Regions from separate parts of the Homo sapiens genome. Here region 1 is linked to region 2. The links come from fine-mapping of genetic effects on gene expression. Tissue or cell type: monocytes. Region 2 holds a variant in brackets; the other region holds the start of a gene. All regions are shown on one strand. Distances are between the middles of the regions.

Region 1 (2,903 bases), 24 kb before region 2:
CCCTAGAGGAGTTTATGCTCCAGTGGGTCGTGGGAGGGGAGGTGCAATGACAACTATAACATTGACAACGGAAAATATTTATTTAGTGCTCGCTCTGTGCCAACCTTGCTCTAACTCACCTAATTTTCATGCCATGTGAAGTAGGTGGTATTATTTTCCTCATTCAGGAGGAAATGAAGGCACAGAGAGGTTAAGTGACTTACTCAAAGTCATACAGCTGGTAGATGGTAGAGCCAGGATTTGAACCCAGAAGCTGAAAACTTCTCCATCCCCATGCTGAGGACTCACACGCATTCCTCCTGCAAGAGATAAGGTTTACCCAGTTTACAGATCAGGGTGTGGAGGCCCAGAGAGGCACAGCTGCCCACCCTAGGTCTCGTGGCCAGCTGTCGGGGAGCGAGATCTAGGGTTAGCCTCCTGGCACTCCAACCTCCTCTCCCCACTGCCTCCTCTCCACATCCCCACTCCAGCAGCCCCAGGACAATCTGCCCCAGGACATGACAACTTCTCATTACTGTTACAAGCAACCAAGCCAGGGCCATCCTGGGGCATACCACTTTCCCCTGGCCCTGAGGGAGAAGAGAGGACAGGAAGCAACTCCCAGCTGGGTTGCTCACTTGCCCCACCTTGGAAGGATTTTCTGTGTCTCCAGAGGCAAAGTGGATTCGCTGGGCCCTCCCCAGCCTCACCCCTCTGCCTCCTCCCCTCCCTCTGCTCTCTCCGGGGGTCACTTGTACTCCAAGCGCTAACATGGAACCAGAGGGAGGAAGGTGCAGCGGGGAGAGAAGGGGATGGCAGCGGGACTGAAACTTGAGATCTTAGACTTGGGGGGCAGGGGATGGGGGTGGAGGGAAAGAGGGAGACCAAGACAGAGACAGGAAGGGAGAGTTAAGTTGCATTTGGTTTTCCAAAGCGGGCAGCATTGGAGCTTGGCGTTTGTGTGTACATGAATGTGTGTGCGTGTCAGCGTGCGTGTGAGTGTGTGCTCGTGAGTGTGTGCATGAGTGTGTGCGCGTGTCTGTGTGCTGTTTTCTTCCCTCCCCTCCAGCAGGGAAGCCAGGCCTCACTGGATAATCAGAGGGCTCAGAGGTGAGGCAGACAGAGCAAGGTTGGTGCACGCTTAGGGTAAGGGCGACGTGCCACCAAGACTGAGGAAGGAGGAAGGGAAGGAGTGAAGAATAGAGGTGAGAGGGTGTCGGGTGGGGCCGGAGGGAGGCGGTGAGAGGAAGCAAGCAGAGCAGCCGTGGTATTCAGAGCAAGTATAAATAGCTGCCTGGACAGAGCTCGGCCAGACAGAGGTTTGTAGCTGCAGCTGCAGGCAAGCCTGGCCACTGTTGGCTGCAGCAGGACATCCCAGGCACAGCCCCTAGGGCTCTGAGCAGACATCCCTCGCCATTGACACATCTTCAGATGCTCTCCCAGCTAGCCATGCTGCAGGGCAGCCTCCTCCTTGTGGTTGCCACCATGTCTGTGGCTCAACAGACAAGGCAGGAGGCGGATAGGGGCTGCGAGACACTTGTAGTCCAGCACGGCCACTGTAGCTACACCTTCTTGCTGCCCAAGTCTGAGCCCTGCCCTCCGGGGCCTGAGGTCTCCAGGGACTCCAACACCCTCCAGAGAGAATCACTGGCCAACCCACTGCACCTGGGGAAGTTGCCCACCCAGCAGGTGAAACAGCTGGAGCAGGCACTGCAGAACAACACGCAGTGGCTGAAGAAGGTACGGGGCATGGGAGGTTTGCAGGGGGCAGAGGGCGGCTTTGGGGTCTGTCACAATCAGCAGGTGGAGTGTCCATCCAAGAGGCCTTCCCTGAGCACAGAGGGCTGTCTCTGAGCTGCACAAAGAGGGGCAGGGGTGGGTCTGAGGCCACACAGCAAGATTGGGCAATGTCAGCTGGCAACCTGGCTCTTTAACTGCCGTCCCTTCATTCATCCAACAGAAATCCATTCAGCCCTGACCAAGGGCTGAACGGACCAAGCCTTCCTGGGTGCTGGGGATACGACAGTATAGTATGTCTCCCTCTGGACTAGTAGGGGAAAGAGGCAGTAAGAGATAATCTACTATGTCAGATGGTGAAGCAAAATGAAGAAGAAAGAGGGCAAGTGGCGGCCCTGGGTGGCTGCTTGAGGTCAGATCATTAGAGAGTACTTCTCAGAGGAGGTGACATTTGAACCCAGAGAACAAGGGAAATGATAGAGTGGGCCAGGCAGGTATTTGAGGGAACGTTCTGCAAAGGGAGCTGCATGTATTTTGACCGTGAGGAGGGAATGCATCCGCAGCGGTGTGTGCCTGGAGAACCATGGGGCGAAGGCCTGTGTAGCTGGAGCAGAGGAGAGGGAGCAAGGGTGCGGGGAGGTCTGAGAGGTGACAGCAGGGCAGGCCATGCAGCTGGGGGGGGGGCCACTGGAAGGACTTCAGCTTTTGTTCTGAGTGTCATGGGAGCCACTGCAAGGTTGTGAGCAGAGACAGACACCCGTGATTCGATTTCAACAGCATAGACTGTAGGAGGCAGGGTGGAAGGAAGAAGCCCAAAGAGGTGGCCGCTGCAGCCATCAGGTGCAAGGTACCGGAGGCCTGGAGCAGAACGGGGCTAGGAGGGGGTGTGGCCAGTAAGATTCTGGTGGGTTCTGGAGGTAGAGCCCATCAGCTCTGCTGGTGAATTGGATGCGGAGTGGGAGGAAGCAAGGAGCTGAGGATGCCACTGTGGTTTTGGCCCAAGACCAGGGCTGCTGTAGAATGCCCTGTCATGCTTTCGTCTTTCAGCAGTGTGAGCACCTATTGTGTACCCTCGGAGAAGCACTGACTACAGAGGTGTGCAAAGCAGGCTTGGCCCTGGCGGGGCATGAGGGTACAGGAGACATCCTGGGGGGTCTGAGATGGGACTCTTCAGAGTCCCTAAGTGA
Region 2 (2,903 bases):
AAAAAAAAAAGAATCTCCTGGGAGCTGACAGAGGGGTTAAAGACAGGAAGGCACAAAAGGCAGACCCATGGAGAGGAGGGCAGCCTGGCCCAGAATAAGGCGAGTAAACAGATTTGAAATCCAAATTGGGATCACAGTGGGCAGTACTTACTAGTGGGTTGAGTGTGGCCGCTAAGAAAAAGAGAAGTTAAGATTGAGGTCTGGGTTTGGGGCTTCAGAACTGGGTGGAGCCATTTCCTGAGATGGGAAAGATTTCGAAGCATGGGGTGGGAGTTACAGGGACAGGGGCGATGGGAGCTGAGGAATGAAGAGTTTCACACTGGGCTTGAGATGCTCATTGGAAACCATGCAGAGATGGCGAGTTGGGGACATGCAGGGGAGAAGTCTGGGTGGGAGATGGTGATGGCTCCATTAGCACAGAGGGATGTGGAAGTCCAAAGACCGATCTCAGCCCCTGGGGCAGGGCCCTGATGCATTTGGATCCTCAGACCTCTTGGCATCTGGTCCTGGTGAAGCTTAATAATCCTTTCTCAGAAATGCATAAAATCAAAGCATAAGAACACTCAGTAATATGGAAATCATAAGCAAAATATGAAAAATAAAATCTGTGATCAGGCATAGCATTATCCAGTGGTGGGTGTGATGTCTATAATTCCAAAGTCCCGGTGAGTAAAAACAATGTTTTAAGATACCGTAAGAGTGTGTTGTGATATGAAAATATTTGGGATTTCTATTGGTAATGACTCTCAGGACCTGCTAGTATGGCTGTGGTTTGTGACCTAGGCTCATAATTGAAGGAAATGCCAAATTTTAATTGCAGATTAGTGGACAAAAAATGTGATCTTTTTTTCTCACTCAAGTTCATGGAGCCTGTGGCTTCTTCATTAAGGACCCCTGACCTAGAGAGTGAATGTACATAGAGACAAGGACCCAGGACTGGGCCATGGGGGCCCTGCCGTGTAGGAGTCTGTAAAGGAGGAGTCAGAGAGTGGGTGGTTAGGGGCTAGGAGGAAACCAGGATTGGGGGGAAGTCGTCCAGCAACAGGGAGTGGCCATCCAGGTGATTGCTCCTGAGATGTCAAGCAAGATGGAGTGTCCCTTGAGGGCAGTGTCAAGGAGGGCTATCTATGACAAGGTGAATTAAAGAGCGAAGGGGGGAACTGCGCGTGGTGGTGCTCGCCTGTCGTCCCAGCTATTTGGGAGGTGGGAGGATTGTTTGAAGCCAGTAGTTTCAGGCTGCAGTGAGCCGTGATCACATCACTGCACTCCAGCCTGGGCAACAGTGAGACGCCAAAAGGCAAAGGGACCTCCCAGGATGGAGAGACATGACTGGAGGTATACAGGAGGATGAGCAC[T/G]ATGGGCTATATTTATTCTCTATACTTTTTTTTTTTTTTTGAGACACGGTCTCACTCTGTTACCCAGGCTGGAGTGCAGTGGTGCATCTCAGCTCACCGCAACCTCCACCTCCCAGGCTCCAGCGATCCTCCTGCCTCAGTCTCCTGGGTAGCTAAGACCACAGGCTTATGCCACCATGGCTGGCTAATTTTTGTATTTTTAGTAGAGATGGAGTTTCACCATGTTGCCCAGGCTGGTCTCAAACTCCTGGGCTCAAATGATCCACTCTCCTTAGCCTTCCAAAGTACTGGGATTATAGGTGTGAGCCACCGCACCTGGCCTCTATGCTTTTTTGTATGTGTGAAACGTAACATCATTTTATTATTAACGTTATGTTGTTGTTGTTGTTTTTTAAGTGAGGGTGGGTATGAAGGTGAGAAAATGGAGACAACTTGTAGAAGTTTTGTGTTGATGAGATCAGAGAAACTGGAGAAGCAGCCAGAGAGGCTGTGGAGTTAGTTTTTAGATGGAAGCTGTTAGCGCATGTTTGTGTGCTGCAGGGAGGGGGTGGGCTGATGATGCAGGGAAAGAAGGAGGGGGGTCTCTCTGGTCTTCAGTCCCTGCTGCTACTCTGCATCAAGGGCTCTCACACTTGAGCAGGCATCTGACTCAGCCAGGGGTGTTGTTAACCACAGTTGGCTGGGCACCATTAAGAGTTTCTGGTTCAGGAGGTCTGCGGTGGGACCTGGAAATTCACATTTTTAATGAGCTCAGCTGATGCTGACGGAAGAACCACACTTGGAGAAACACAGCTCTAACCAGTACTACTACCGCCCACAAGCACCCGCTCCAGGATGTGATAATGGAACTTGCTCCCTTTGAAACACTCCAGGGTGAGGAAGGGATGGGAGTGAACAGTCAAGATGGAAGAAGGGAGAAGAGATGAAGGAGGAAGTGGCTGGAGCCTGGCCCGAGCCAAGGTCACCACCTCTCCTGGGGAGCACCCATCTTCCCAAGGACCCTGAGAGCTGTCCAGCTGGCTTCTGAAAGACTGAGTGAGAGGGCAAGGGAAGGAGCCAGGGACAGGGGTGGGGGGCATGGTGAGAGGCCAGCATGTGTGCCGAATGGAGAGGCAATGGTGGAGGGGAGCTGGCTCTCTGCCTGCAGGCACCGAGCCCTGAGAACACACTGTTCACCTTTACAACAGCATACTGGTGTCATGCCAGACCAGCTCTCCTGCCCTTGGGAAAGAGAGCAGCCCTGTCAAAGAAATGAACATTTGCATGTGGGATCCCAGAACATCAGAGCTGGGAGAACCCTTGGAGACTGGCCAGTCCAGCCCCATTTGGCAGATAGAGGGGATCTGAAGATAGAAAACACAGCTTGGCCAATGGACCTGCAAACTCTTTGTACAAGGGAGAGATGCATTCCCACTCCCTGCTGGCTGACTCACCCTGAGGAAGCTGGTGAAGGGGCATGTGATTGGGCGCTGTGCTCTGACCCTTGCTGTTTCCCCTTTTTCATCAATTCATTGAACGCGCATTTATGAGCACTCACTGTGCACCATG

Evidence for each region. PIP is the estimated chance that this variant, and not a neighbour inherited with it, causes the effect.
Region 1: ANGPT4 starts here. The variant in region 2 is the best candidate, but not a certain one, in a credible set for the expression of ANGPT4 in monocytes (TOPMed, PIP 0.50).

What each region holds. Positions count from the first base shown.
Region 1 is chr20:914,722-917,624 of GRCh38, reverse strand. It overlaps ANGPT4 (angiopoietin 4), which reads left to right and starts at 1,291. Exons shown (of 9, transcript NM_015985.4): 1 at 1,291-1,719. The coding sequence starts at 1,411. LOC105372492 (a long non-coding RNA gene) reads right to left here. Exons shown (of 3, transcript XR_937185.3): 2 at 204-299.
Region 2 is chr20:891,087-893,989 of GRCh38, reverse strand. All of the region lies in intron 1 of ANGPT4 (angiopoietin 4), which reads left to right. Among named protein-coding and RNA genes, the nearest start is that of ANGPT4, 24 kb to the left of the region's middle. The variant T/G (reference allele first, on the strand shown) is at 1,356.